Linked DNA regions of Homo sapiens: region 2 is linked to region 1. The links come from fine-mapping of genetic effects on gene expression. A gene starts in region 1. The other region holds a variant in brackets. All regions are shown on one strand. Distances are between the middles of the regions.

What was found. PIP is the estimated chance that this variant, and not a neighbour inherited with it, causes the effect.
Region 2: its variant is fine-mapped to the expression of SCIN in subcutaneous fat (TwinsUK, PIP 0.95).

Annotation. Positions count from the first base shown.
Region 1 is chr7:12,560,421-12,577,142 of GRCh38, reverse strand. SCIN (scinderin) reads right to left here and starts at 6,423. Exons shown (of 16, transcript NM_001112706.3): 1 at 6,158-6,423. The coding sequence starts at 6,356. LOC107986768 reads left to right here. Exons shown (of 3, transcript XR_007060635.1): 3 at 5,762-13,250. RefSeq lists an enhancer at 9,855-9,904.
Region 2 is chr7:12,591,710-12,608,431 of GRCh38, reverse strand. SCIN (scinderin) reads right to left here. Exons shown (of 16, transcript NM_001112706.3): 4 at 3,769-3,918. It overlaps LOC107986768, which reads left to right and starts at 13,225. Exons shown (of 3, transcript XR_007060635.1): 1 at 13,225-13,510. RefSeq lists an enhancer at 11,595-12,794. The variant A/G (reference allele first, on the strand shown) is at 10,810.

The DNA.
Region 1 (16,722 bases):
CTTGGTATTGTTCCAGGTATTTTACATACAACATACATTTAATTTTCACAATTGTAATACACATCACATCCAGGTAACTTCACTAAGGTCAAAACAATTCCTAAGAACCAGTGTCTGTAGTGTACATAAAGGATACAGTACGGACAGTCAGGAGGGGCACTCACATTTTATGGAAAACACTTCAAACTCTTTACTACATCCAAGCTGTAATAAAAATCTTAAATGACTCTAGAAATAATAATAGCCAACATTATACATTTATACTACCCCTATGGGCCAGACACTATGCCAATGTTTTACATGGATGATCTCATTTAATCTTCAAGCAACCTCATAAAGCAGAACCTATTTTCTACTAGATTGGAACAGAGAAAATGGAGGCTTAGAGAGGCTGGGTAACTTTTCTGAGGTCATAAAGCAACTTTTGGGAGAAAAAGACCAGATGTAGGTTTGTGTGACTCTGAAGCACAGGTTCTTAAAAACTCCAGTACACTTGTGGGTATTTTTTTGTACTCAGGCTCTCATTAGCGGTACAATTTTATAGTGACAAGGTATGTTAATTTCTTCCATAGATAACTGATGCATAAAAGCTTAGAAGCTGTAATAATTTAATAGTTCACATGAACAACCCTAACTGACAGTATTCACCAAAGTTGAAGAAGGCAAATCAGTCAGTTGTATTAAAGAAAGAATCAGATTTCCTTACAATTTCCCTCTTACTCTCAAATGAGACTCATATACCAAGTATCTTCTGAGGGGAAACAACAACAACAACAAAAAAAAACAACTCAGTAGCTAGAAGATTACTTGACGTGATAACAATTTTGTGAACTCGCTGTGGTCAAAGTTAAGTATTTGACACACCGGCAATTTTGCAATCTGAAAGGACTCTGGTGTCATTCTTCTGCCGATTTGGGATCCGAACCCTAACTGAGAATACCATAAAGATGTAGATGTAGATTTTTATGATGCCTTAAGAGAGATGCTTTAAGAGATAACTTGGAATCAAGGTTAACATCAAAGGTGTTAAAGATGATGTATTTGACATAAACGTCCTTACCTGACTACAGGTTGAAACCTGAATCTCTTTAGGTAGATGTAAATGGACAGGCATGAAGTTAATGAATGAACTGAAAGTAAGTTAATTAAATTATCCTATCATTTGCTGATGCTTATGTAATGTGGTTGGCCAGGGAATATCTGTATGAATAAAACAGGATGCCTGAATGAGGTTGACGGTCTTGATGAAGCCAATGTCAGCCTTTGGATGCGAAAATTAGAATCAAATCCAGTTGTAGCATGATGGAATTCCAGAAAGTATTTAGAAACTTATGAACTTTGTGTATAAAGTCTGCTTAAGAATCAGTTTAGTTTTCCCCTACGAATCTGCTTATGATTTCCATTTGTTGTTTCCCTACACTGATTTTACCGGTGTCTTTTATGTTCTGTTATACTATGCTGTGCCGTGTTATTTTATATTATGTTAGACTTGTGTACATCCTATGAATTTCTATAAGTATTTTGTGGATGTAATGATTTTATAGATAAAAAGAGAGATTTAAAACTAGGTTAATCCAACAGCCATTCATGATAAAATAAAATAAGTCAAATTAGGAATAGAGAGGAACACCTTCCAACGATAATTAGAGTCAACAAAAAACACAGAGCTAGCAATGCTGAACAGTAAAAGACTAAATGTTTTTCCCATAAAATCCAGAAAATGGGTGTGCACTCACACCACTCTTATTCAACATAGTACAGCAAGTTCTAACCACTGCAATAAAGTAAGAAAAAGAAAAAAAAGGCATACAAATTGAATATGAAGAAATAAAAAGGTCTCTATTTAGAGACAACAATATTGTTTACATAGTGAACTCTAAGAGACCTATCCAAAAAAAAAAAAGAAAACTCTCCTAGAAATAAAAAGTACATTGAGCAAATTAGCAGGATACAAGATTCATCAGTAATACAAAAAATCAGTCACATTTCTATATAGAAACAATGAACATGCTGAAACTGAAATTAAAGGCGCAATGCTATTGACAATCACTCCAAAGAAACTGAAATACTCAGGCATATAGTTTAAAAACATGTACAGGATCTGTATGCTGAAAATTACAAAATGGCATTCAAAATATCAAGGAAGACCTAAGTAAATGTAAACGCTTAGTGTTCATGGATTTTAAGACTCCACATAATAATGATGTCAATCCTTCACAAATTGATCTATAGGCCTAATGTTATTCTTACCAAAATCACAGTAAGGTTTATTATAGACATATACAGGCTTATTGCAAAATTTATATAGTGAGGCGCAGGCCCTGGAATAGCTAAAATAATCTTGACAAACAAGCATAAAGTGGGGGGAATCACTCTACCTGATACTAAGGTTTACTACATAGCTAACGTGATTAAAACAGATTGGTACTATTGAAGGATAGACACAGATCAATAGACCCAATTTCCCCCAGTAGTGGCAACTTTGTAAAATTACAGTATAGCTTAACATATTAATGTATAGTACAGTATAGCACTGAACACCACAACCAGGATATTGGCATTGATATAATCCACCTATTTTATTCGTATTTTCTCAGTTTTACTTGTACTCGTGTGTGTGTGCATTTAGTTCTATAAAATTTTATCACATGTGTAAATTCATACATCTGCTATCACAATCAAGATGCTGTATAGTTCCACCAAAAACATCCTTCAAGTTGCCCTTTTATAATACACTCTTCTCCTGCCCACATCATCCCCTCTTCACCCTATCTGTAACCAACGGCAATGCCAAATCTAAAATTTTGTCATTTCAAAAATTTTATATAAATGGGATCATACAGTATAAAGCCTCTTAGGGTTTTTCACTCAGCATGATTCCCTGGAGCTTCATCCAAGTTGTTGTATGTATCAATAGTTTGTTCCTTTTTATTGCTGAGTAGTATTAGTTGGTACAGATGTACAACTTGTTTAACCAGTCACCTGTTGAAAAGCATCTGGGCTGATTCTAGTGTTTGTTTATTCAAATAAAACTGCTGTGGACATTCAGGTACAGGTTTTCATGTGAATACAAAACTTCATTTTTCTGGAATAAATACCTATGAATGCAATTGCTGACTCATATGGTAGTAGTATATTTGGTTTTGTAAGAAACTACTAAACTCTTTTCCAGAGTGCTGTACCATTGCATGTACCCACCCCCATGCTCCAGCAATGTAAATGATCCAGTTTCTAGCCAGTCCTTCGTATAAGTTCTTTGTATCGTATATTGTAATCCAATCCTTTGGATTCCCAGGGCATTGCACAAGGCCTGGTATAGCCCACTTATAACATAAATGTATACTGCTTTAAAATATATTTGTGTGAAGTTTAAAACTGGCAAAGAGAAAGAGTGAGGATAAGTGTTTGTACCTTAGGTTAGGGATGTGACAGGGAGCAGTTTTACTATCTAGACCTACCCATTGATTTGGTGCTATAAGGAACTACAAACAGAGGTGAATGGATGCATTTAAACTGCTAGGTGCAAAGCTGAAATGTTTTTAAAGAAGGGCTAATGCAATAACATTTAAGTTCTTTGCAATAAATTTTTACTTTCATTACATTTAAGCATATGATGTTAATACATTCAAGCATGTAATGTTAATACAATAAAATAATCTGAGATATGCCAAGTGTTATGGAAACACTGAGGGAGAGACCAAGAAAGACGACTCTCCTGCTCTGTTCTCTCTTGTTCTAGGTCCAACTTCTTCCTGTTTCCCCTTTTTGCCTCCCATTTGGCCTGTTTCTTCATTTCTATGCTATGCACCTTTTTTCATCTCAGTTTAACTTTAGTTTCTCTTTCTTCCGGCTGATTTCCTTTAACCAAATGTTCTTTTCCCCTGGAAGTTCAGCTCTCTCTCCTGTGACTTTCTCTCAATCTGTCTCTCTGATGAATCCTCATGGATTCATCCTAATTTAGGTCTTAGACTACACTATTTTGGATGAAATTCTGTTTTCTTAGGGAACTGAAGTAGGAAGAGCTGTTGGGCAATCCCATCTGAAAGTCCTGTTGACTATTTTACTTGAAGCTTTTTTTCTCTCCATAATTCTCTCTTGACACAAGAACACTTCCAAGTACTCTCATTTTTTTTTTCTCTAAAGGCTTCTGTTTCCCAATAACCACAGAAACTTTGTGCTTTCACAGTAATTATCACATTCTACCTGTGTTATATCACTTTTTGTCTTTTTGCACCTTTGAGGTGATGAACTTTTAGAGAAGTTTCATTAATTATTCATATCCACAAGTGCCTTGTACAGTACTGGCCATATTGAATAATTACTGAATGAATTTGCTTGTTATTAACATGTTATTGACTTCAGTTTTAGCATGTCTTTAAGATTATAAATGTTTCTGCCCAAACCATTTTCTATTATATTTTTGAAATTTATGGGCATCAAGTGGATAATTAAGTAGATAATTAAGTGAATAAGGTGAATCTGTAAACCCTACAAAATATAGTAGTTAAGAGGACAACTTGGATAAAAATGTATAGAATTAAAGAATTGTGTTCAAATCTCCCTTGCGGTCATCTGACAAAGTCAAACTTAACTGCTGTCTACAGTAAGATATGGCATTATTTCACATTTTAATTTACTCAAATGGCAAATGTGGCATTTCAAACACTTTCATTCATGCTAGATTTAAGTTCTGCATGGAAAGTCCTCTGTAAGGACATCATTATTCTATCTGGCATCATTCATTCTTGAACATGGGTTATAAAAGTTTCAGTCTTTTCTGGCAGAAAATACAAATAGATGACTGTGTATTACAACATTATAATAGGAATAACAGCAATGCATCAAGAAGCCAAAATGTGTTCAGAACTCAGGCTGAGCCTTCTCTGCCTCCTCAAGCTAACACAAATTTTTGACTCCAAATGTTATAATTAAAAGTCTTATCTTCATCTACGTATTTTTCATTTCTCATTTCTCAAATGCCTGTTCCAGGTGTTTGCCAATGTTTAGACAGTCACTACTCAATGTTTTCTATTATTTTGTTTCTTAAAATCTTCAAATGTTGGAAATTACAGTGTTGGCTTTCAGGGACTCAAAAATGTGTAAGTGTGTGTGGTTTTGTGTGTTTTCCTCCTAAGCTCAGGGATAAAACTAAACAAACACGAGTACTGGGCAGGCTAGCTAGTTTTAAAAGAAGGCAAAAAGGCTCAGAGAATCGGCATGTTGTTAGACAGGGTGTGCCCACTGGCACAAGACCTCCTGGGGAGAGGCTGGACATTCAGGATGTTTATGAGTAAAAGTAGAAGGTGGAAAAAGAACACACAAGGCCCAGTGTCCTGACAGCCTGGCACGAACGCAGCTCAAAATAATTACTACTGCTGAAGGAGCCGTTTCTGTTCCATCTTGTGTCCTTGCTAAAATAAATAATAAATAATAACAATAAAGCAGTCTACATAAATATATGAAATACCCATATAGAGCTATTTATTTGTATATAAAATATCTGTATTTTTTTCTTACTTCTATCTGAGGACGCCAGCTTCCGAATGAAGCGGAGTTTTTGTCTACCAGACCCACAAGCAGCATGGTGCGGGTAGAATCCTGTTTTAAAGAAGCCCAGAACAATAATTCCCGCAATCATAGAGAAAATAAGCCAGTGCCCGAAAGCAACAAATAAAAATAATGTGTGAAGAAAAAGAAAAGGACTTCTTCCTAGCGGCGGCAGATGCCCCCAGACTTTATGACTTCCTCTCCATCCCGACAGGGAAAGCAGGACTGAGTTTGTCGGAAGGTGAGCGGGGCTTGGCCAGAGACGGTGTGCGCTGAGGCAGCGGCCCTGGACAAGAGTGGCGTTTGGATACTTGACGGTGAAAGGGGAAGAAGCCAGTCACCAGCTCCAAAGTCCAGGAACTACACCTGGCAAAGGTCAAAGCCTGCGAGGTAAGTCAATTGCGGACAACGCCTGAGCCCCGCGTTTGCAGCCGGCGAGTTGACTTCGGTAGGGAGAAAGTGGCCGGCCCCAAAGGGCAGCCCCGTGGGGGCGCGAGTGGCTAGCTCAGTTTGCGGTCCCCTTTACTCCCACGCCTGCAAATCTCAGACCCCTACGCCCTCCCCTCGCCGGCCTTGGTGCGTCGGGGTCCCGCCGCCCGCCGTCCCTTACCGAGCCAGAAGTGCAGGTGGTAGGTGAAGCCTCGGCTCGTCTTGGCCGTGTGCAGCACCAGGTAGGCATCCCCGACGTAGAAGTCGCCGTGAGCGCTCTGGGGCACGGGCACCAGCTCCAGCTTCTCAATCCTCCAGACCTGCAGCCCCGCCTGCTTGCCCGCCCGGGCGAACTCTTCGTGGTATAGCTCCCGCGCCATGGCTCCTGCACGCGATGCTCCGGGGGACGCGTGATATCGCTGATCTTGGACTAAACCGAGAGCAGCAGGAGGAACCTTATTCGCCGCCACTTTATAGTGTTTGCCATCCGGGGAGGCGGCGCCCTGAAACGGGAGGGGCTAAGTGCCCAGGCGCGAGTTGACAGAGGAGACGATCGCTTCCCACGGGGAGCGCAGCGCTGGCTTCCAAGCTCCCACGCCTTGCCCCAGGCCAGGAGCGGAATCGGCGTCCCAGAAGTCTTGAGATTCAGAGGGAGTTTATAGTAACTCGTGCCAATGCCTCCTCCAAGGAAAGACATTTTCTCTAGCAATAGACGAAGAACATTAACGGTTAAAACTGCTTGGCACTCCTTTGTGCATACCCATCACTACCGTCCTGCATATTTCCCCTTCTCTCGCTAATCCTCTTATTTCTGGATCTCAGTTGTGCCTGGCAGGAGGGGTGAGGTGAGGAAAGAGCGCGCCAGCCCTGCAGAGTTGAGTCAGCGTTTACTCGGGTGGAGCAATACCTGTTCTTTCTGGCCCTCTAGAATAATTCTTAGAACAAGGCTTCCTCTGCTAATAGCAACACCTGCCGTTAGGCAGCAGAGGAGTGTGCCACATTAGCATGCTGGAATAATTTTAATACATCCTTCTTTAAAAAATGGGCTTTTTGAGTAACAAGCATCCTAATGATCAATTCTGTCATTTCATTGGGCAATCTCTGCATTCCTGACGACCAAAGTTTCTGTCTCGATCTTCCAGTTTGAAAATACCATGAAAAACAGCATGTCAGATTTCTTGGACAGGAAGAAAACCTGGAAGAATGGCAGTATTACCCCAGGTGACAGAGCTCTGTAAATCTCAGAGTTCAGGAGCTGTGGTTGAGCTCTCTTAACACCTGCTTCCTTTGGCCAAGAAAGATGAAAACAACAACAAAAACCCAGCAGCCGCCGTCCTGAGATGTTCTCTGCAGGGCTGTTTGTGGCTGTAATTTTATGCTTGGCCGGACTTCTGGGTTACCTGTTACCTAGCTTCAAGGTGATAATTTTCTTTGTTTTACCTACAGGTTTTGCTTTTGCAGCATGGCTAAAACACTATGGAATACAGATGGAAATTTTACTCTTGATTTGGCATTCATTTAACAAGCTGGTATAGCAAAGGATTCTGTTACTGAAAAAGGCAAATCACTCAGGATGTATAGAGTAAGAAAGCTGAATTTCATGCATGTAAAATTGTTTTCATTCAATTTCTCAAATTACATGAATCCCTGGAAGGTCAATAATAATGCAAAATTAGATTTTTTTCCTTAATTAAATTATGTTTTTAATAGGTTATTACATGACCATGGTAAAAAAATTAAAAGTACAAAATGTGTGCAATAAAAAATTATCTCCATTTCACCCTGCCACCCAGTTGCTTTCCCCAAAGGCAATTACGTTACCAGTTTCTTATGTATTTTTCCAGGCACTCAAATTTTGTCAACAAGAATATAGGTAATGTAGTTATTTTAAATTTTTAACAGAAAATGTAACATATAACCTTTTCGAATCCCCCCCCGTGTGTGTGTGTGTGTGTGTGTGTGTGTGTGTGTGTGTGTGTGTGTCTGTGTATCAACACACAGTACTCATAGAGCTACCGGTTTTTACTGACCATATGGTATTCCACTTTATAAACATACTAATTTATTTTGTCTATCTCAGTTCATAGTGTAGGGGCCAAGGGAAAACTTCCCCTCTACCCTCTGAAGTTTCACTGAAAAATCAAGTCACAAAAGGCAGATTAACAGGACAAATGGCATACAAATTTATCAGCGGGCATGGGGGAGAATCACAGAGTGATTGGCCAATATCCCAATGAGGTACAGAGGGTTGTACCTCCTTATTAGAGGAAAGGCAGATGGGTGATGTATGGGTGATTTGGGGGGTTAGAAAATGATTTTTAGGGGAATTCAATGTGTTTGAAGAACATACAGTGGCCTGAGACAAAGTATGTTAAGCCTGCAGAGCTCTCCGTGTGTGTTGACAGACTTCAGTCTTTCTTTCTGCAATATGAGTTCAGTTTGTGGAAAGTCAGGGAAGAGACCAGAGGTAACTGTTTTCTTCTTTGGCAAGTCGAGACTTTAGGCAGATAAGGGAACTTCAGAGAATACCTTCATTCTGTGCTTTGGGAAAGAGAGGATTGGTGAAGGAAGGTCAAAGAAAACTTAAGCCTTCTTCATTTCAGCATGTCAAAGTGTCACATTTTGTGGTATTGGTTTCTGAGCCCCAACACTAGGCATTTAAATTTTGTGTATATTTTGCCAATACAGTGTTACAAATAGCATATTGAACATACTTTATTATGCATTCGCAGTATTATAATTGAGATAAAACCCTGGAAATATAATTGGTTGGGATTAAATAGCTTTTATGTAGTGACGATAATTATGAAACCAATTACTACCACTTACTGATCTTTGACAATAACAGGCTATAGTACACATTACCTTGATTCAATTCCTGCTTTCATCCTTAGTTCTGAGACTTTCAGGAAGTTACTTAACTACACACAGCCAGCCTCATGTTCCTCATCTCTAAAATGGGAAAATAATAATATTTGCCTTATAAGATTATTTGGTTTAAATGAGTCGACACATATAAGGTATTTGTGTCTGTTACACAGAAAACACTCAATAATTAGGAACAATTTTTATGTGGTGGTGAGCTTCCTTTTGCTCCTTTAGATATCTTCTCTATCCTGCACCCTTCCACCTTCCCTTGAGGTTGATCTACAAGAGCTAAATCAAGTGGGCTCTGATGTCCTCTGGCTTGAGGCTTGGTTGGAGACCAGAGGGAGAAAAGAGAGTGAGGCTGGAGTATTTATTTCCTTGGCTCCTTCAGCAAAAAGTCACTGTTCTTTTAAAGGCGAATAACTGTGTCTGACTTTTTGTCTCCTGTTGGGTTATAGCAACTCTCCCCTCACATGTTTTATTCCTTTTGTTTTCTCTGCCTCTGTTCTTTTGTATATAGCTTCCTAAAAATCTCCTGGAATTTTCCTATTTTGCATGCATGCTCTGTTGTAAGTTGAGATCCTGATGGATAAATTTTATTAGCTACATTCTTTTTTTGTCTCCTGACCAAAACAGTGAGAGGTGGATATGAAGCCTCATTTTATTGATGAGGGAACTGAAGCTTTGGAGTTTGCCGTAGGTCAGTCACCCAGCTGATGAGTAGCCAAAGGGAATTCAAGTTCTCTCTCTCATTCAAAAGTACTTGCTCTTCCCAAAAACGTATTCTTTCAATCTAAATTATTTGGCCAGGTGTTTTTCCCTGAAGCATACTTTATAATTTTATTTTCTTCAAGGTTGTATCTAGAGAAGCTTCTGATCTAGTATGTCCCATGCAGCACTAAGAAACTTAGTTTTAACTTTGAGCCATTAGGTCTCAGTTTCCTTATCTGTAGACTGAAATCATGTGTTCTCTTCCTCCTGACGAAAAAAAATATAAGAACTGGTGCTCTAGACTTAAGATAATTTAAAAACCAGAGGTGTCTCAATTTCAGTTTCAATTTCAGTGATCATTTCTTTGTTGAAGAAATAAAAAGAAGCTTTGGCATAGATGAAAGTGAAATTCCCTCTAGGTTAGGCCAGAGCTAGTGTGAGGCAAGTAAGACAGATGCCTAGGATGTAAAAGTTAAAGAGGCACAAAAAACAACAACAAAGTAGCATTCAAGATAAATACTATTTTAAGGTGATATTTTAAAGCTCAAAATTAATGCAAAATATCATGATATAACATTTCAAATAGAGACAGGATTGTTAATAGTGCTGTACAGGCTGAGACAAAGGAAAAGTACTGATCCTTCCACTACTTAAAACTTTGGGCTGGGCGCGGTGGCTCACCTGTAATCCCAGAACTTTGGGAGGCCGAGGTGGGCGGATCACGAGGTCAGGAGACCGAGACCATCCTGATTAACACGATGAAGCCCCGTCTCTACTAAAAATACAAAAAATGAGCTAGTTGTGGTGGCAGGCGCCTGTAGTCCCAGCTACTCGGGAGGCTGAGGCAGGAGAATGGTATGAACCCAGGAGACAGAGCTTGCAGTGAGCCGAGATCACGCCACTGCACTCCAGCCTGGGCGACAGAGCGAGACTCCGTCTCAAAAAAACAAAACAAAACAAAACAAAACAAAACAAACAAAAAAACCACTTTGATAGTTAATAGTTTTGGCATTTTGATATTTAAAAAAGTGCTGCATTGAAATACCATTTTATATACTAAAATACTTGATTTATTTTTTTCTTTTTTTTCGTCCTATTAATTTTGTGCATGAGGCAAGTGCCTCACTCTCCTGACCCTAGTCCTCTCCTGGCTAAGTGAGCTCCAGATCTAAACTTCCAACTCCCTGATAGATATAGCTACCTGATTGGTCCTGCTGAGGTCAGGTTCAACATACTCACAACAATCTTATCGTTTTATCCAAACATACTTCTATTTTTTTCTAATTTCACTAACAGCATCATTTAATTTTGACCTAACACTCTCTATCTCCATATTCAATCAACAACCCAATCCATCCCTAGTAGCCTACTCTCTTGCTCCTCCTCTGATCTTCAGTAGAGACATGCAGTGAAAGTTAAGCGGCCTAACTTAAAATATGGCTTTGACCTAGGTTGAATCCTTGTTCTCCCCCATTTCAGCTCACTGAGCTGGGGCAAGTTACTAAACATTATGTGTCTCAGTTTTCTCATCTGTGGAATGGGGATACTGACAGAAATTTCCTTGTAGAATTGTCATGAGGATTAAATGGATAAATACATATAAACCTGGAAAAGTACCTGGTACATAGGAAGTGGCAGTAAACTCCACTGAGACTAACAAGTGATTAATTCATTTCTCCAAATTCAATCTTCAACGAATAATGTTTCCAGAGTCCAGATAAGGACTGCCCATTTTCTACACAAAAAAATCGTCTCCAAAACCAAGTGCCAGTTTCCTTTCCAGGCCTTTATTTTCTCTTCCTCTCTCATACCCTAGTTTCCTAAAAGTAAATAATTTCCTTCCATTTGTGTTATTGCCCTTCTTCCATATCTGTCTGTTAAAGTTCCTAATTCTTTAAAGTCTGCTTCCTTAGGGTCATGATTCCCCCGGATCCATTAAACTCCAGCATCCTCTGTGCTCCCAGCACTCCAGATCTGCTTACATCATAGCAGCTCCCACACTCTGAAGTGTGTTTTCTCTCTCAAGTTTGAAGGTTCACTTAGAGATTCATGACTCATTATTTGATTCCCTGGCTTTATGGTAATACATGCTGACTAGATATGATTGAATTGTTTGTTTTACATTAAATTACATTTATATTTTCATCAATTTACAAACCTGAGTCCAAGGAGAAACACCCAATGTGAATAAGTCTTTACCAAGAGTCAGGAGGTTTGAGGTTTGGGGCCAATGTGATTGGACTCAAGGTAAGTGTTCTAGAATATTAATACCTAGAGGGGAATGTTGCATATGTTATTCTTCTGAATAAAAAACAATGTCAAATAATATAATTGATGTATTGTGCAATTCACTAAAATGGGTTGGGAAAAATGAATCAGCTTCAAGCGATCTTCATTCCTCAGGGATAGAATCTCAGAGTTGAGAGACATTTTATTTATATCATTGCATCGTGATCCCAGAATTGTTGAAACTAAACATACGAAAGACAGGGACTGCACTTTTTTTTCCCCCAGGAGAGGTAAATGCTTTGAATGTGCTATTTATTTGCTTTCTTTTTGTTATGTAAATAATGAAATAATGTAATTAAAAATACATTTCTTTTAGTGGTAGTCCTGCTAAATTGTAATAACTTAACGTTTGTTTTACCAAATTATTTGAGGGTATAAGCATGGAACCTGGAATCAGGGGACCTGAGCATTGTGAGGATTAAAAGAGATTATGTATGTCAAAGCCCTAAGCACACAATCAACAAAGTCAGTTGATAATCAGCAAGCACCCTTTTTCCCAGTACCTATCAAAGCTTCACTTAGAAGTGAAAATACATTCCAGGGAAGTGTATTTTTATCCTTTTGACTCATTCTAAACAAACTAGAGCTTAAGAAAAAAAAGCACTCTTTTTTTTTTTTTTTTTTTGAGACGGAGTCTCGCTCTGTCACCCAGGCTGGAGTGCAGTGGCGCGATCTCGGCTCACTACAAGCTCCGCCTCCCAGGTTCACGCCATTCTCCTGCCTCAGCCTCCCGAGTAGCTGGGACTACAGGCGCCTGCCACCATGCCCGGCTAATTTTTTGTATTTTTTAGTGGAGACAGGGTTTCACCATGTTAGCCAGGATGGTCTTGATCTCCTGACCTTGTGATTTGCCTGCCTCGGCCTCCCAAAGTGCTGGGATTACAGGTATGAGCCACCGCGCCTGGCCCAAAAAAGCATTCATTTAAAAAAAAGCTTCAATCAGGATTTTGGACCTTCCCTTTCATAAGTCAATTATTTTTAAACTACACATAACACTATAACTATAAAGTAATACTGAGCCATGAACTATCATAGTCCAAGGTTCAGTACTAAAGTGAAGGTTTTATTGCTGTTGAATGTCTGCTGGTGTGATATATGGTCCATTTTTGTAAACCTACTTACTACAGCAGGTCATAGTTGGTTGATTTGACATTTCTTCTGAATACTGTCATGCAGTATTTTATTATGAAAGCAATTTCTAACCCATGTTTGATTATTTACAGAAGACATTATCATTACTTTAGAAGTTTATACATTGAAGAATGCTTATGACCAAAAGAAAGGTTGAGGATGAAAGTTTATGAAAATTTATGATTTAAATGTATTTTTTTCCTTTAAAATTATATTTGTATAAATGGAGATCATATCGTCTAAAATATAATAAAATTGAGGCTAATGGTGTTTGAGCCTGTGTCATCTTTTTTGCTTGATTTTTCTAAATGTCTCTATTTTACTAATAATCACAATTAACAATTTATTCTGTTTTGCTTGCTTATTTGTAGCCCTGGCATTACCACTTTGTGAGAAATAACTTCAGATTTTCAAGGACTAAGTCAACAATACTTGAATGCTAGAACTGTGTAACCATAGAAAATGATGGAAATCAGATATGATCAGATTATCATTTTGTTGTAAAGATACTTACAAAAATAAGGTTAATTAATTCATTTAAACCAAACAGAAGGTTGTTTTTAAAAGTTAAAGCTTGAAGATTATTTTCTGCTAGCCAGAAATAACTTCCTTCAGCCAATTCTCTTTTTATCACAACCTCCCTTTATATGAGTTGAAATTATGCAATTTGACTGTAACTCCTTTTACTCTTGATATCTTGAGGCTTGCTTGAAATCACAGGCTTCTATGGAGTAAGCAAACTGACTGAAAGGATTTCCGAAGATACTTTATTTTACATACTTCAGAGAACAGTGTCTTTTGAGGCTGGCAAAGGGAGCCTCATTAACTCCGTATCTACCCAGTTCCTCTCCTGAAATGACAGCATTTTAAAATAAACAGCTTAACAAGTATTCCCTGGACAGCTGGTACTCACACTTCTAGCTGAGGCCTACTAAAGAAAGATGGAGAGCAATTTGCTTCACCCAGGAAGTCTTAGGGCATTGGGATACTTGGGGCAGTAAACATGAGGGAGAATTCTTTTTGTTTTCCCACCATTTCTTTATCTCAGTACCTACATGGCATTTTTTTCTGATTGCTGTGGTTACACATGTTTACTGAAGACAATTTTGAAAATACCAATTACAAATGAGATTAAAATTATCCCTAATCATACAACCTAGGGATATGCTCTGATAACGTTTTACACAAAATTAAGATCATGATATAATACTGTACATTTCCATTTATAATTTGTTTAGGACTCATACTACACATATCTTTTCTTTGAGTGGTTGGGGTTAAAAGCAGAATTCCCGAAAGTTCCATCCTTCCATTTGGGAAACCCTGACTTGTTAGGCACAGAAATACTCCATGTCATTGTAGCATCACTCAATTGTATAATTTTGACATTTATTTTTATGTGAAAATTATAGAACAATTACACTCATCCATAATCATGTCTTTCTTGCTCGCTCTCTATTTTAACAAGTATTATGTTATTTAAGAAGTTCAGTGCCCTTGGCCCGGCACTGTGGCTCACGCTTGTAATCCCAGCACTTTGGGAGACCAAGGCGGGCAGATCACGGGGTCAGGAGATCGAGATTATCCTGGCCAACACGGTGAAACCCCGTCTCTATTAAAAATACAAAAAATTAGCCGGGCGTGGTGGTGAGCGCCTGTAGTCTCAGCTACTCAGGAGGCTGAGGCAGGAGAGTGGCTTTAACCCGGGAGGCGGAGCTTGCAGTGAGCCAAGATCGCGCCACTGCACTCTAGCCTGGGCGACAGAGCAAGACTCCATCTCAAAAAAAAAAAAAAAAAATAGAAGTCAGTGCCCATCATTGACTCCTAAAATGCCATCTTTTGGAGGTTATATCATTTTAACAATTTGATATCCCTTTCAAATTGCTGAGTTGATAGACATGCCTATGCATTATCTTTCTGTCTGTCTGCCTATCTCTGTTCCTCTATTCAACCATTTCTGTTCCTCCATCCATTTCTCTCTGTATTAGTGGTTAAGAGCACAGGCTCTGGAACTAGCTGTCCTGAGTTCAGTTTCCTGTTCTGCGATTTCTAGCAATGCTGTGGCAAGTTACTTTGCACCTCTATTTTATGATCTCTAAAATGGGAGTACTATGTGATAGGATTGTTATGAAGGTGAAATGAGTTAACACAAATAAAGTTCTTGAAATAGTTCTTACCAGCTAGTAAAATGCTCAGTAAAGGCACATTACAGTTATTCATACATAAACACACATACACATCTACCCACAGGTACTTCAGCCAAACTGGAATGCATATCAGCATCCAGCTACCTTTCATTTAAACAAAATCGTATTAATAGATTATGAACATTCTTTCAGGTAAGTATGTATGGATTTACCTCATTAAAAATAATGGCTTTGCATTCCATTGCATTAAGTAATATGCAATTTCCTTCTTTTGGTACTTTTAGATGCTTTACATGCATAAATTCAAATAATACATTAATAACCTTCCATACATCTTTCTTTGTGTACACGTTACTATTTCTGTAAGACAGATTTCTAAAAGTGGAATTTCTAGGCCAAATGATTTACACTTTTTTTGTTTGTTTGTTTTTTTGTTTTTTTGAGACGGAGTCTTGCTCTGTCACCCAGACTGAGGTGCAGTGGCACTATCTCGGCTCATTGCAACCTCCGCCTCCCAGGTTCAGGCGATTCTCCTGCCTTAGCTTCCTGAATAGCTGGGACTACGGGTGCGTGCCACCAACCCTGGCTTATTTGTGTATTTATTTATGTATTTATTTTGAGACAGAGTCTCGCTCTGTCACCCAGGCTAGAACGCAGTGGCGTGATCTCGGCTCACTGCAAGCTCCGCCTCCCGGGTTAATGCCGTTGTCCTGCCTCAGCCTCCTGAGTAGCTGGGACTACAGGCGCTCGCCACCACGCCCGGCTAATTTTTTATATTTTTAGTAGAGATGGGGCTTCTCCGTGTTAGCCAGGATGGTCTGGATCTCCTGACCTCGTGATCTGCCCACCTCGGCCTCCCAAAGGGCTGGGATTACAGGAGTGAGCCACTGCGCCTGGCCTTGCCTGGCTAATTTTTTGTATTTTTAGTAGAGACTGGGTTTCGCCGGTTTTACTCATTTTTTTTTAAAGGTTTAAGGATATCACCAAATTATATTTTCTAAGTCAGTGGACAAAAATGACCATTTCCCTTATCTTAGTACTAAATTCTAACAATTTTTCATTAAAAATTCATTTCCAGTCTAATGCATGAAAATTATATCTCATTTTCTTAAAGTTGTATTTCTGTGTTATTAGTGAAATTTAGCATTTTTCTATATATTTGTTACTATTTTTATTTCTTCTGGAAATTTCTTACTATATTATTTGAACATATATCGACTAAACTCATATTTTGTGTTAGTGTGTTAAGTATGCTAATTTTTCCTCTTAGATGGGTTGCAAACATACCATTTATTTTCCTTCTTTGTTTTCTCCTTAGGAAAGCTTTCCTAAGGTGATGTTAAATAACATTCTCATATACTCTATTGCAATAATTTTGAAACTTTGTATTTTTTCCTTAGATCTTTACTTCATCTGAAATATATATTTGTGTTATAACATAATTTAAAGATATAATTTTAATCTAAATTTATAACCACATTTATTAACAAGATTTGTTAAATCATGTATATATACTGATTTGAAAGATATTTATCAAATGTAAAATTTTTGTTTCTTAATCTTCTATTTAATCTACTAACTTATTTATTCATTTATCTGT
Region 2 (16,722 bases), 31 kb before region 1:
ACTCCATCTCTAGTAAAATCAACTGTTGCACCAGGGTCTCAGAAAAAGAAATGACATTTTCAAATTTTAAACAAGGATACTCTGTGTGTGTGTGTGTGTGTGTGTGTGTGCATGTGTGCATGCATAGTATAGACTGGTTTGGAACACTTCTGAAACCTATTAGTTCCCTTCTAAGAAAAATATTTGCTAAATGCATAAAACAAGATACAAAGTATTATAATGGAAATAAATTACATTGAAATGCAGCTATTAAAATATCAAAATACATATTTTAAAGTTTGGTAAAGTAATATATGAGCTTTTCATTAACTCATTAAATACTAGTGAGCAGAAGATCTAATAACAATAATAATTACCAAGTAGCAATGAGCATAAACGTATTTTGAGGTTGTGTACAATAGCTATAATGTGAGCTGAAAAGTCACAGTACTGTTCCTGCTACTCACGTTTGCTTATTACTTTCACAATTGGAGGAAAGGCCGTATTTCAGTTAAGAGGTTAGTGAAAATAAAGTTGTAATTCTTCCCAACCAAGTTCATGGGCTTTTTGTATTCTATCCTTATCATTACAACACTAAGAAAGCCTAGAAGTCAAACAAGTTTGTTATAGGTGCTCAATTAATTAATCAAATAATTACTCTTTCTTGTAATCAGGCTACAAAACTACATTTCCAAAAGCGAAAAGACCACTGAATGCTTTTTTTCCTTATCTAATAAAGGTTTTCACTGAAAATTCATCTCAGTTCATTGTGTGAGTGAAAGCAGTCAAATAAAATGTAGTATAGACACTGAATGTATTGAATGAAAACAAAGTGGGTGCTTTGTAGGATTTTTCTAAAAACCAAACTGAGGAGTCTTGGAAACACAGACATCACATTTTATCTTAAGCATTATATCTCTTTATCCTTATCACTAATATTTTAAAGCCAAATTATATTTTTGCACAGTTTTTCTTCATTTGCTTTTTCTTATTTTAATTTTACAGTGTAATGTATTGACTGTTTACACTTTCTTTTTCGAAACATTGAATGAAATCCAATAAGCCAGGACACCACATATGTACATGCCCAGCAGGGCCCCTCAGCTGCAGCAGCATCACTTCCTGGAACAGACTACAAGTGGCAAATGAGTGGTAATTAAACACAGCTGCTGCCCAAGAGGTAAGGTAGAAGGATAGATCATTAGAACCTAAAGGGACTGGAGAAGCCATTTTGTCTAACCCTTCACTTTGCATATGAGGAATCAGACACAATGAATAGTCAGGAGACTTGCTTTGGGCCAAGGGTGACCCTGGAGAAGCATGAGTGATGTCCGATAGTTAATGTAACACTCTTCTTACCACTTCACAAGGCAAGTCCTGTTCCTGAATCTGCTTCTATCCAAGCATAGCTATTGAGACAAGGGATTACAGTCAACTAGAAATACATCTTATTTATAGATTTTTGCTTCCAAATATGCCAAGTTAGAAGACTTACATGGTTGATCCCATCTCTAGAACAGAGGCCTTAAAAGAATATTAAAAGATCAAGAATTTGTTTTGAATACTTTTCAAAGTCTGATTTATTAGCTATGTTATTCTAACCAATGAAAATCCAGTAAAACCATCCCTAATTTTATCTTAATTTTTTAAATGGACTTTTTTTCTGATTATAAAATGAATCATATATGTTAATTATAACAAAGACAAATGAAGAAGAAAATAAGCAGCCACATCCCAAGATGTAATACTGGTAATATTTTAGCACAATTTTCTAGGTATGTACATATGTATGAATACAGAGCTATATACACATATTATATGTTAGTATAATATTGCATATAAAATTTTATATTCTGTCTTTTCTCCTAGTATTATACCATGAGAATTTTCCCCACTGAATTAAAATTATTTCCAAAACATCATTAATGTGAAAGTCTGTGTCTGGGCATTATTAAAGCAATAAAGTTTAAAGACATTACAATACATAAAGTTATTTCATATAATTTCTGATCACTGGATTTTTAGGCTATCACTGGACCATGTAACTACTGCATTAAATTTCTGTAAGTCAAAAATATTAAAAATGTTTATGAGATAGCCTTTAGATAGATTTAAATGCAAATCTAAAATTACTGGAGGAATATGTATAATATTCCAGGAAATCAGAGAAATGAAAACTCAGAGATACCACCTACCACTATTAAACGCAGAAGTTTCAAAAAGGTATTATATCAACAGATTTTGACAGGGCTCTGTAAAGTCACGATGGAACACAGTGCTCGTACAAGGAAGTAGCAACTGGTGCAAACATTTAGTGCCTGGCGCATCGCAGGAGTACAATAAATATTTGTTGTATGAACAAATGGAAATTAATTTGTGAATACGTATGAAGACATCTTAATATAGTTATACTCCTTAACTGACAGTCTTATTTAAGGGAATATATACAATATATATACTTAGGTAGTCACTGCAATATTCTTAAAAGACAAAGTTTGGTCACAACCAAATGCCTAAGATTCATATAATCGTTAAGTAAATGATGCAGGGTCTATAGAGCCATGAACACTTAATTTTCACATTAATTTAAGAACTACACTAAAATCATAAGTGTGTTGCGTATAATTCTTAGCTTAAAATGATTGAAATATTTTAAATACTGGCATATTTAATCTCTTGGTATAAGATTGTATTTAATTCCTTTAACGAAATACAAGTTGAGCATCCCTAATCCAAACATCTGAAATTAGAAATACTCCAAAGTCTGAAACTTTGAGTCCTGATGTTATGCCACAAGTGGAAATTCCACCCACAAGTACTTAACACACATTTTGTTTCATGCGCAAAATTATTTAAAATATTGTATAAATTTATCTTCAGGCTGTGCATATAAGGTGTATGTGAAACATAAATGAGTTTCATGTTTAGACTTGACTCCCATCCCCAAGATATATCATTTTGTATATACAAATATTTCCAATACCCCGGAAATTCAAAATCTGAAACACTTCTGGTCCCATGCACTTTGGAAAAGGGATACTCAACCTGCAACTGTTAATTTTAAAATTGAAGAAAACCACCGTGTTTGAAAAAAACCCTGAGAAGGCCGGGCAGGGTGGCTCATGCCTGTAATCCCAGCACTTTGGGAGGCCAAGGCGGGCGGATCACAAGGTCAGGGGATCAGGACCACTGGCTAACATGGTGAAGCCCTGCGTCTACCAAAAATACAAAAAATTAGCCAGGTATGGTGGTGGGCGCCTGTAGTCCCAGCTACTAGGGAGGCTGAGGCAGGAGAATGGCGTGAACCCGGGAGGCAGAGCTTGCAGTGAGTGGAGATCGTGCCACTGCACTCCAGCCTGGGCGACAGAGCAAGACTCCGTCTCAAAAACAAAAACAAAAAAACAAAAAACAAGTAAAACCCTGAGAAGCCCAGATGAATAGATGAAAGAACTATTAATATTGTCTTCCTTCCAAAATACATTCTTACGGTCAATTTCAGAAGTGTCACTCATTTGTTTCACCTCATATACTATAGAAGATAGGCCCAGGGCTCCTTTGATAGTGACACCAACGGTAAGAGAAAGTCATGACTTTCTGTTTTCCCAGTTCCATCACTTAGATAACCCTGTTGTTTCCTCTTACTAATTGTAGCTAGGCTCACTATTGAAACATGTGTTGAATCTCTTTCCCCTTCTTCCCCACCCTGCTGCCTTACACACACACACACACCACACAGACACATACGAGTTGGAGTGGTAACCCTTTAACAAACAACAGGAGTCACAATACCTTTATAAGTTCTGAGGGTTCACTTCCTTCTTCCACGACAATTAGTTCAGACCTTCCTTTCCTTTCATTGTACCGAATGCCAGTAGCTACCTGGTTTGCCTTCAGACGTTCATATTTGTTGCACGAGGAACCACACCACTGATAAATTTCCTAAAAGAAAGAGACAGATCTGTTGACCCTAAGAATATGAGGAAGACATTCAGCCTCAGTGTAATACTTGTGATTAATTAGGAAAGAAAAAGGAAAATTAAATGACCTATTGTTGAGGTATATACATAATTGTTACACTTCATTCTGCATCCTGCTGCTTTCAGTTAGCATTACAAAGTAAGCAGTTTTTAAGCATGGAAAATATAAATATATATATCACCATTCTCTGTGTATATAATCTATAAATTACAATTTATAAAAGTAAACATATGGATTAAATTTGAAATAATAAATATACCACACTTCAGAAAAGTAGTAAAGAATCTGTAAAAATATGATACTCTTGATGATCATAAAATGGATATAACATTTTTGTAAAACTATTCATGTTTTTAAATTGACAAATACATGTTGCATGTATTTATTGTGTATAACATGATGTTTTGATATATGTATACATTGTGGAATGGCTGAATCAAGATAATTAATATATGTAAAGCAATTTAACAATTCTTATCAAGAGCCATAAAAAGAGTGATATTGTCCCAGTAATATCACTATCTGGCATTTACTTTAATAAATTATTCATAAAAGGAGAAAAAAACCACACATATAAGGGTTTTCGTTGCTATGTAATTATATTGGTGAGGCCTTGGAAAGGCATTAATTGTTCAAGAATAGGATAATAGTTATATAAATTATGATATATAGGGAAAATTTGATACTTAACTGTTAAAATTAAACTTTAACATCGAAACATGAAAAAGTCGAAACAGAATAACAGTGTGACATATAGTAGAGATTATATTAGCTACCATTTAGATTAAACTACTATATATTTTAGATTGTAGATTTTGGTATAGTGTCCAGAAGGTATAAGGATACAAACGTAAAATAATAATGAAAAATTACCTCCTCCATTAACATTGTTTACCAAAAGAAAGAAAGAGAAGTTGAATAATACCCAGACCTGGAGTGGCTGTGGGAGTGGGCATTATCACCCACTATTTGGGTGGTATAAACTGACACAGGTTTTTTAAGGGTGGTTTAGCATCATTATAAAAAAATTAAGGTCAGGCATGGTGGCTCATGCCTGTAATTCCAGCACTTTGAGAGGCCGAGGCTTGCGGATCGTGGGTCAGGAGATTGAGAATATCCTGGCTAACACAGTGAAACCCCGTCTCTACTAAAAATATAAAAAATTAGCCAGGTGTAGTGGCGGGCACCTGTAGTCCCAGCTACTCAGAAGGCTGAGGCAGGAGAATGGCGTGAACCCGGGAGGCAAAGCTTGCAGTGAGCGGAGATCATGCCATTGCACTACAGCCTGGGGGACAGAGCGAGACACTGTCTCAAAAAAAAAAATTAAATGTGCTTTTAATAACAAGAAATTCCATTTATAGGAATCTATACTACAGAAATATTCGAACATGGGATATAAAAACAAAAGAAACTGTTGCGGGAAGTCAGGGACCCCAAACGGAGGGACTGGCTGGAGCCACAGCAGAGGAACATAAATGTGAAGATTTCATGGACATTTATCACTTCCCAAATAATGCTCTTATAATTTCTTATGCCTGCCTTACTTTAATCTCTTAATCCTATTACCTTCGTAAGCTGAAGATGTACGTCACCTCAGGACCACTATAATTGTGTTAACTGTACAAATTGATTGTAAAACACATGTGTTTGAACAATATGAAATCAGTGCACCTTGAAAAAGAACAGAATAACACTGATTTTTAGGGAACAAGGGAAGACAACCATAAGGTCTGACTGCCTGCAGGGTCGGGCAAAAAGAACCATATTTTTCTTCCTGCAGAGAGTCTATAAATGGACGTGCAAGTAGGAGAGATATCGCTAAATTCTTTTCCTAGCAAGGAATATTAATATTAAGACCCTAGGAAAGGAATTGCATTCCTTGGGGGAGATCTATAAACGGCCGCTCTGGGAGTGTCTGTCTTATGCGGTTGAAATAAGGACTGAAATATGCCCTGGTCTCCTGGAGTACCCTCAGGCTTACTAGGATTGGGCAATTCCAGCCTGGTAAATTTTTGGTCAGACCAGTTCTCTGCTCTCGAACCCTGTTTTCTGTTGTTTAAGATGTTTATCAAGATAATACGTGCACAGCTGAACATAGACCCTTATCAGTAGTTCTGTTTTGCCTTTTGTCCTGTTTCCTCAGAAGCATGTGATCTTTGTTCTCCTTTTTGCCCTTTGAAGCATGTGATCTTTGTGACCTACTCCCTGTTCTTGCACCCCCTCCCCTTTTGAAATCCTTAATAAAACTTGCTGGCTTTAAGGCTCAGGTGGGCATCATGGTCCTACCAATATGTGATGTCACCCCTGGAGGCCCAGTTGTAAAATTCCTCTCTTTGTACTCTTTCTCTTTATTTCTCAGCCAGCTGATGCTTATGGAAAATAGAAAGAACCTATGTTGAAACATTGGGAGCGGGTTCCGCCGATATCTGGCTCCCAACCTGGGGCTTAAACCCAGGACCCTGAGATTAAGAATCTCATGTTCTACCGACTTCCCCCAATAAGAAACAAAACAAATGCCCATCAATAAGAGGATGGCTACATAAATGTCATTGCATGAGTCCTGTCCACTCCTCTTCAGTAGTTAAAAATTAAGAAAAATGTTTAAATACTGATGTAGAAAATTAGTGAAGGTATATCATCAAGAATACAATAAAGACATAGAATAATATAATTACATTTAAGTAGAAACAAAAACACAAGCTCTGGCTCTGTGTTTGCACAAAAAAATGATAAACAGTTTTAAGAGATTCAGAGGGCATGCATATGCAGAAAGAAAGCCTTCAATGTTTACTGTATCTAAGTCAGTGATTTTTTTTTGTTTGTTTTTATGTCACATACATTACTCACTGCTTATTATGCTGGGGATACAGAGATAATTAAGAAAAAACTAGCAAGGAGAGGTGGACTGGTAGAAAAATTGGCTAATAATACATTTGCACTGTGCTTGGTTTTCACAACACTCCCACACACGTTTCATCTAGTCAACCATGTAGAGTTGTGGTTAAGTGTGAGGGAAATGGACCTAGGCTGCCACTTTCTGGGTATTTGATAGTGTGTTTGCAATTTTTCAAAAGAGTAAATAAATTAGAAATAGCAAAATAAAACATCCAGAGAAATGGATTCTTCTCTGATTAAATTTCCAGCCCAGAGTCATTTCTTCACTCAAAAAATGGTTTACTGAGTGACTAAAATGGGGCAGCCTCTCCTGTAGGTACTGGAAGCACCATTCTGAACAAAGTAGGCTTGCAATAGTCTCTCTGACCCCCGCTTAACATTCCTGATGACCTAATCCACGGTCCTCTTTAAGAATAAAATACACATTTTAGGAATGCAAAACTTTATAAGAAATAAAATCAAAAGGACTACGTCTAGCAATCTCCTTCTCTCAAGAATCGAATGCAGTTATTTAGTATGGTCAAAGGGTGTTTCTTTCCTATTTCTAAAAGAATAGTGCACTTCTATTGCTTCTTTTTAACCTCTTTTCTACATCTGGGCATTGGAATATGAGGCATACATGTGGAGGTCATTTGAATACCATGACAAAGTTAGCAGTTACAAAGAGTAAAAATAAAGGGCTCCCAGTGATAAGTCAACTCTTAGCCACTGAGCACTAAAATCAGATAATAGAGTAGCAAGGTAATTTTTAAAAATACAGAGATGTGAGCCCTATCCTTAGGAAATCTCAGGTGTGTTCTGGGCAGCTGTGTTTATTAAAAGCTCCTCAGGTGATTCTAGCATTCAACCAGTGTGTGCCAAGTGTGATGTACTCTGAGCACACCACACTTGTGCACAACAGGGAATCTGTAACATCTAATTATCCAGTGCAACTCAGTAGACTTTTCTGCTGAGCCCAAACTAATGTTTTTGTTTTGAAAACATTTTACTTATACTTGACTCATGACAGAAAAACATTGACCCTATAAATCAGAATATTTTTTCCTACACGTATCTTTGTTTTTGTTTTAAATTTTTAATTTTAATAGATTTCTGGGGAGCAGGTGGCATTTATTTAGATGAATAAGTTCTTTAGTGGTGATTTCTGAGATTTTGGTGCTCCCATCACCCGAGCAGTTTACACTGTACCCAATGTGCAGTCTTTTATTCCTCACCATCCCTCACCCTTTCCCCTGAGTCCCCAATGTCAATGTATTATTCTTATGCCTTTGCATTCTTATATCTTAGCTCCCACATATAAGTGAGAACATATGATGTTTGGTTTTCTATTCCTGAGTTACTTCACTTAGAATAATAGTCTCCAATTCTATCCAAGGTGCATGCGAATGCCATTATTTCGTTCCTCTTTATGGCTGAGTAGACCTAAATCTAAGACCTGAAACCATAAAGATTCTAGAAGATAACATTGGAAAAACCTTTCTAGACATTGGCTTAAGCAAAGACTTCATGACCAAGAACCCAAAAGCAAATGCAACAAAAACAAAGGTAAATAGATAGGACTTAACTAAACTAAAAAGCTTCTTCACAGCAAAAGAAAGAATCAAGAGTTAACAGACAACCCACAGAATGGGAGAAAATATTAGCAAACTATGCATTTGACAAAGGACTAATATCAAGAATCTACAAAGAACTCAAAAACACATCAGCAAGAAACAATCCCATCAAAAAGTGGGCTAAGGACATGAACAGACAGTTCTGAGAAGAAGATACATAAATGGCCAACAAACATGAAAAGATGCTCAACTTCACTAATCATCAGAGAAATGCAAATCAAAATCACAATGCGATACCACCTCACTCCTGCAAGAATGGCCATGATGAAAAAATAAAAAAAAAACAGATGTTGGTGTGGGTGTGGTGAAAGGGAACACTTTTATACTGTTGCTGGGAATGTAAACTACTAACGACCACTATGGAAAACAGTGTGGAGATTCCTTAATGAACTAAAAGTAGATCTACTGTTTGATCCAGCAAACCCACTAATAGGTATCTATCCAGAAGAAACGAAGTCATTATATAAAAAAGATACTTGCACACACGTGTATAGCAGCACAATCTACAATTGCAAGAATATGGGACCAGCCCAAATGCCCATCCATGAGTGGATAAAGAAAATGTGATACACACACACACACACACACACACACACTCACCATGAAATACAAAGCAGTGTTTTGCTAAAATTCCTCTTCCTATCTTATTCCATGATATTTTGCAAGTGATTATTTTCTCTGCAAGTCTGAGAATACAGACTTCTAATAATTATATTTTACATTAAAGTGAAAGATCAAAAGTAGATCAGAATTTAAAAGTCAAGTTTTCTTTTTACCTCAAAGGTGACTAAATTACTAAGCAAAGTGGTTACAGAAAACTTCTTACTCAGCATGAAAATGAATGACCTGTGTTCTCTTTTTTATTTTCACCTTATTTTATGCCACTATTTACATACGAGTGATATATTTTCCTATTTAGTAGACTTACTTTTCAATGGTTGATATAAAAAATTTAATAAAATAATAACTTTAATTGTAAATGGCTAAAAGTCAGAATGCTTGACAAGTCATTATTAATTAAAACACTGTTTTTTTTTCTTTCTCTCTCTCTTTTTTTTTGAGACAGAGTCTGGCTTTGTCACCTAGGCTGGAGTGCAGTGATGCAGTCTTGGCTCGCTGCAGCTTCTGCCTCCAGGTTCAAGAAATCCTCCTGCCTCAGCCTTCTGAGTAGGTAGGACTACAGCTATGTGCCACCACGCCTAGCGAACTTTTTTTGTTTTTTTGTTTTTTGTTTTTTGTAGACATGGGGTTTTACCATGTTGCCCAAGCTGGTCTCGATGTCCTGGGTTCAAGCGATCTGCCTGCCTTGGCCTCCCAAAGTGCTGGGGTTACAGGCATGAGCCACTGTGCCAGGCCGATAACACTGTTTTTATTCAATCTAATTAAATGTTCATTCAGTGGTGGCAGCAGTACATTAAAACTTGCTTTAAAAACACAATTTTAGTATTTCATCAAATTTGAAAATGTATATTCCACCATGTGTGGATAGTGTGTTTAGGACATCTCATTTTAACAGAGCTCTACTGTGCTGAAGTAAGTGTGTGTAGTTTTATTAATAAACTGTGCGGCCCAACACTTACTCTATTCAGAGGTAGTTAGTTATGACTACTTCACCACTCTGGCAGAAGGAAACTTTGTATTCATTTGGCACCATGCTTGAAAAAAACTCTGTTCTTAATTCACCTTACTCTGTTTCCACCAGGGAGTAGGCTTAAAAAATAAATTCCTTCATAAAGTTAAAAAAAGTCTGAATAAATGTGATAGGTAAATACCTATTACTACAACAGAAAGTTTTCACTATAATCTAAGTTATTTTATGTATAATGCTTTAACAGAATTTAGTTTAAAAACCATTCATTGACTTGATTTAAGTATGCTAGACACTGAAAATTGTAAAGCAAACAGTTTCAGGGGCAACTATTTCACCATCTAAGATCTTAAGGCATTTAACAACTCAACACTAAATATCATATTTCTCTAGGGAAGCAATGTTTAAAAAAGCCCTGTAAATATGAAATTATCCATTTATAAATAATTTGGAATGAAATCCACTTAAATTCTGGCAGAAAGCTGATGTACATATTGTATATGAACATCCTCTAGCAGAAGTTTGTGAAACTATAATTAACTCTTAATATACAAACTATTAAAGAAAAACAAAATTATTCTGCACAATTGGAAAAGGAAGAAATGAGACTATAAATACAATCTGTTACTGGCAGTTAGTCTGGTCCACTAGTTACAAGAAATAAGAGCAAGCAAGTTATATTTATAGAAACAACCACATTTGGGGAGGGGAGTCCTATTATTGGTCTTGAAAATCAGAGGTTTCTAAAATTTCTTT[A/G]AACTATGTGTTGAGTTAATAAGTGCAGCCAGACATCATTTGAGGACAGAAAATAAGGGCAAAAGTAAAACAATGCTCAATGGTGCCCTTGAGGAAAAGCAAGATTTCAGAGGCTGTGTTTAAAGGAGCACCCAAAACAGCCTATGCGATGTTGACTCAACATGTGCAAGGAATTCAGCATAGGCTTGCTGCTCTTTGGTCCTTTTCTAAGTTATTATTCTAAATACATCTAAAATCTGATTAAAGGAGAACGTGAGGCCAGACTTCTTCCTCTTCCTGGCATCTATTGGCTTTGTCTTTCCTGTGTTTAGCTTTCCCTTAGATCTAGTTACCCAAATATAGAAATTCATTAAGATGTATCTTTAGCCTAGAGGTTCTCTAAGTATAGTTTAAAAACAATGATTTGTGAGATAACTCCACGAACCTTTTTTATTTTAAAAGTTTAAAATATGACATCTCGTTTTTGAATAAACAAATGTTTCTTTATATCTATTTTGTTGTCTCCTCAAAGCCAGCTCAACTCAATATCCTTCAGTTACGTATGTATTGAAAGATATTGTGTGTGTTTTTCAAACTACCTCTGAATGAAGGACACAAGATGAATGGAGTGGTGTGCAGGGCCACTGAAGGCTTGGTGACCAGAAAGGAAGCAACTACATTTGAATTAGGGCAGATCAGTGGTGATAGAGAGAAGAGAAATAAATATTTAGAAGGTCTAAGCCTATAGGATTGGTCAATAATGCCATTTGGATGTGCAGTAGAGGGACAGGGAAAAGGAAAATGACTTGGACAATTCTAGCTTGGTTGCTGGTAGTGATGCCACTCATCAGGACCAGATGAACAGTTTTGGGAGGGATCTTTGCGTAGCACCAGTGAGCACAGGTGAAATTATATTCTCTTACTACTCAAAGTGTTTGCCAAACCAAAAAAAAAAAAGCTTACAGTCATACTTTAACAAAAAGCATTTCTGCCAGCCACCTAAGTTGGTGACTCAACTGCTCAATCAACATCAAGAGTTACTGCTTCTTCATGCGTATTGTTACAGGTAGTTACGCAGGCATGAGTGGGGCAGGAGAGGGCCCTCCCCCAACCACTAGGAATGTCAGTTGATGGTTCAGCAATGATCACATTGCCTCTCTAAAAGTGATAAATTGGCAGCTGGCACCAGAAAGAGGCCATTTCCTGAAGGTTCACACCTGTTGCACTAAAGTGAATGCAGACATCAGGGAGGCCATTTCCTGATGGTCCACACCTATTGCACTTAATTAAACGCAGACGTCAGGGAGAAGCAACTTCTTGGGGATGTGCAAGATGAGACAACATGGTGGAGTATGACCTTCTGGGGACACGCCACTGGAAAAAGGAAGAAAGACTCAGGTTGGCATGTGTACGACTTCCTAGACACACTGCATATTCTCACCTCCCAAGGGTAAGGAGGGCACTGCACATGAAGGCAGCCCACCCTAAGGGAAGAATCATGGGAAAGGAATCTATAAAATCCTAGGATCAAAGTAAACACCGCGCTTGACCTTGGTACCTGCTTGGGTCTCTTCCAAGCATACGTTCCTTTCTTTTCCTTCCTGTTCTAAGCTCTTTAAAAATAAACTTCCACTCCTGCTCTGAAACTTGTCTTGGTCTCTTTGTCTGCCTTATGCCCGTCAGTCGAATTCTTTCTTCTGAGGAGGTAAGAATTGAGGTTGCTGCAGACCCATATGGATTTGCCACTGGTAATTTGGATACCTTCTACTGGTAACAATACGACCCTGAATTGTCCAGCATCTTTAGACATTTTCTTGAAGTGATTTACAACATTCAGTGTACCTTATGTTATGGTATCCTGGAGGGAAGGAGTCTTAAGAAGTCCAAACACCAAATTCCAAAACTTTAAAATCAGAATCTTCAGGGGTCAAGTCACAGTTACCAGTACTTTAAAAAACTTTTCCAAATGATTCTAATGTGAAGCTATGGCTGAATATTAAAGTACAAATCGTAACATCTTAAGAGTTGTCTTTCCTAGTGCCTGCTCCTCTCCCCTCAACCATTGCCCCTATCCAGCAAGAAGCAGCCAGATGACAACAGTGCCCCTCTTATATTACCTATTAAAAGGCTGGAATGTTAGGAACAATCTGCCCCAGGACCCCTCCCCCCACCCCAATGCAACAGACTCTTACCCCAAATACTCTGCAGCTGCATTCCTGGATCCTTATCTAGGCCTACAGCAAGGTCACCAGACTTGCTTACAGCCCTACGGGCAGCATGGGGGAGGTCACGAGAAACGTGGATAAACCTAAGTTACGCCCTCTTGTAAATTCCTATATTGAAACCTGGTCACAAGATGATATGTGGTAAAGTTAACTCACAAACAACCCCAGGGTCTCTCTGCCCCATATAAACCCGTCATTCTGTAAGCTCAGCGCTGCCTCCTCTGACTGTGGTGGAGCAGCTCAGCAGGATAATAAGCTTACTCGCCTGACCTTGGGTCTCTCTCTCATCCTTTCTCTTGGCTAACCTTCATTTTGGTGCCAAAACCCAGGAAGGGGATAGGCTCTGGCTGGGCGTCCTTAGAGGATTCTCTCTCTCTCTCTCCTATCATCCCTTACCCAGCCAACCTCCCCTTCCCGAACCTGCTAAAGACCCTAAGGATCTCCCAAAATTCTCCCATTGTTGGCCACCTCATCCACCATCAAAGCCTCTGAGAGGGGTGAGTAAGAGAGACTTTTGCCTATTACCTGGAACCCTTGACCATCTCTTCACTCCCAAAAGACCCAGCGCTGGGCCAAGGGCTTCCTCTGGCCTCCAGGCCTCTGGTTCCTCTGTTTCCTGGACGCCTGACTCCGCAGCTACCTCCTCTATTCCATACAAGGCCTGCAAGACAGGCGCCGCCCTCTCTCGTCTTTGTCGTCTGTGGTCCCTTCTTCCTCTACCCTCACCTCCTCCATTCACTATGGGAGCCTCTCAGTCTACCCCTCCCAAGACCACCCCCCTTGGGTGTCTCCTCCGCAATCGCAAGGCTCTCGGCCTCCGTTCAGGGATCCGTTCTAAGAGGCTTATCTTTTACTGCAATACTGCATGGCCTCAATACCAATTGGACAATGGCTCCCAATGGCCCGAAAATGGCACTTTCGATTTCAATATACTTAGAGACTTAGACAACTTTTGCCATCGCAATGAGAAATGGTCTGAGATTCCTTATATTCAGGCTTTCTTCATTCTCCGTAACCACCCTTCTCTCTGCCACTCCTGCTCTACTTTCCAAATCCTACTCACCAGCTCAAAACCTGACTCATCTCCCGTCACCCCACCCACAGACCCAGCCGATGACTCCTCTTCCTTTGACCCCGTGGATTTTCTCCCTCCTCGACAGCATCATGATCCTCCACCAGAGCATCATGATCCTCCACCGTATGTCCCTGCTCCGGCTCTACCCCTCTCCCCCACTCTCTCCAACCAACCCACTTCTGACTCTGAGTCCTCTCTGCCTCCTCCCCTCACCCGCTCTCGGGCCCAATGTGCTCAGCAACCAGCTCCCTTGCTTCCTCTCCGGGAAGTAGCGGGAGTTGAGGGGATCGTCCATGTCCACGTCCCTTTCTCCTTCTACGATCTCTTACAGATTGAAGAACGTCTCGGGTCCTTCTCCTCCGATCCTGATACTTACATCAAAGAATTTAAATATCTTACTCAATCTTATGAACTCACTTGGCATGATCTCTACTTTATCCTCTCTTCTACCCTCCTTCCAGAAGAGAAGGAAAGAGTGTGGCTCGCAGCACAGGCATATGCCGATGACCTTCATCAGCAGGATCCTACTAAGCCCGTAGGAGCTGCTGCTGTTCCCTGGGAAGAGCCTTCCTGGGAATACCAACCCACAGACCCTGGCCAAGTGTACTGTAGCCATATGATTACTTGCCTCATTGCAGGCCTTAACAAAGCTGCCCATAGGCTGTAAATTTTGAAAAACTTAAAGACATTTCCCAAAAGGCAGATGAAAATCCTGCCCAATCTCTTTCCCGCCTTACAGAAGCTCTCCAAAAATATACCCGCATCGACCCTGCCTCCTGAGAAGGAACTATTGTTCTTTCTTTAAAAAATTTTATTTATTTTTTAATTATTATTATACTTTAAGTTTTAGGGTACATGTGCACAATGTGCAGGTTTGTTACATATGTAGGAACTATTGTTCTTAATACCCGTTTTATTTCCCAATCTGCCCCTGACATCCGGCACAAACTTAAAAAGGCTGAAGATGGCTCTCAAACCCCACAACAAGACCTCCTTAACCTGGCTTTCAAAGTCTTTAATAACAGGGACGAGCAAAATAAATTAGATAAAGCCCAAAGAGATCGTGCTAAATACCAGCTTCCAGCAGTGGCTATCTGTCAGTCTAGCCATAGTACCCAAGGGCACAAAAGACCTGATAGCAGCAAACCTCCTGGGCCTTGTTTTAAGTGCGGCAAAGAAGGCCACTGGACGGGGCCATGTCCCCACCCATGAGTGCCGAAGAGCCCTTGCCTAGTCTGCCAGCAGATGGGCACTGGAAGTCTGACTGTCCTCTCAACAGATGGGCAGACAAGCATGCTCCTCAGAGCCACCATCCCTTCAACAAGACAAAAAGTGAAGAATCACTTGCACTCCCATAGCTCCTTGGCCTAGCCACTGAAGACTGATGAGGCCAGGGCCCCTGGGCCCCGGCTCCCGGCCCCCACTGCCATCACTGCATCGGAGCCCAGGGTAACTCTACTAGTAGCAGGTAAGCTGATCTCTTTTTTAATTGATAGTGGGGCCACCTACTCAGCTTTGCCTGAGTTCTCAGGACCCACTCATCCCTCTCAAGTCTCAGTTGTGGGGGTTGACGGACTCATCTCTTGTCCGCTTGCCACCAGACCTCTTACTTGTTCCCTGTTTGATGCCATTTTCTCACACTCTTTCCTTATCATGCCTCATTGCCCCACCCCCATTCTAGGCTGAGACCTTTTAGCCAAAGTCAAAGCTTCTATCACCTTTTCTTGCCCCCTTCAACCAGAGTCCCCTCCTGCTCCTCTCCGCTAGTCCGGCCCCTGACCCCTTTCCCCAGTACCCACTTCCTGCCTCTCTCATTAACCCTTCCGTAGCTGCTCACCATGACCCCATCAGAATCCAGTTAAAAGACTCTTCCAAATTTCCCAATGTTCCTCAATACCCCATCTCTCTAACCCACCAAAAGGGCCTACAGCCCATCGTAAACAAGCTCTGCTCATGCAGTCTTCTTAGACCAACACACTCTCCATATAACACCCCTATCCTCCCTGTTAAAAAGTCTGATGGCTCATACCGACTCGTTCACAACCTCCGAGCCATCAGTCAAGCTGTCCTCCCTATTCATCCCATAGTCCATAACCCCTATCCACTTCTCTCTCTCGTCGCTACCAACACCACCCTCTACACTGCAATTGACCTGAAGGATGCCTTCTTTACCATTTCCCTACACCCTGATTCCCAAAACCTATTTGCTTTCACCTGGACTGACCCTGACACCCTCCAGTCACAACAACTCACATGGACTGTCCTCCCTCAGGGCTTCAGGGATAGCCCTCATTTCTTTGGACAAGCTCTAGCCCGAAACCTTACTTCCTTAAACCTGTCTCCCAGTCATCTTCAATATGTGGACGACCTTCTTCTTTGCAGCCCCTCTCTAAAAGACTCTCAAACTCACACGGCCACTGCTCTCTTAAACTTTCTCGCTATCAAAGGGTATAGGGTCTCCCCCTCCAAGGCCCAACTCTCCATCTCCATGATGACTTACTTAGGAATTCAACTTTCCCCTGGGGCCCAGGCTATGACTCCAGCCAGGGCAGCATTAATAGAAAATCTACCCCCACCCTCCTCCAAAAGCGAAATCCTTTCCTTCCCAGGGCTAGCAGGCTTCTTTAGAATATG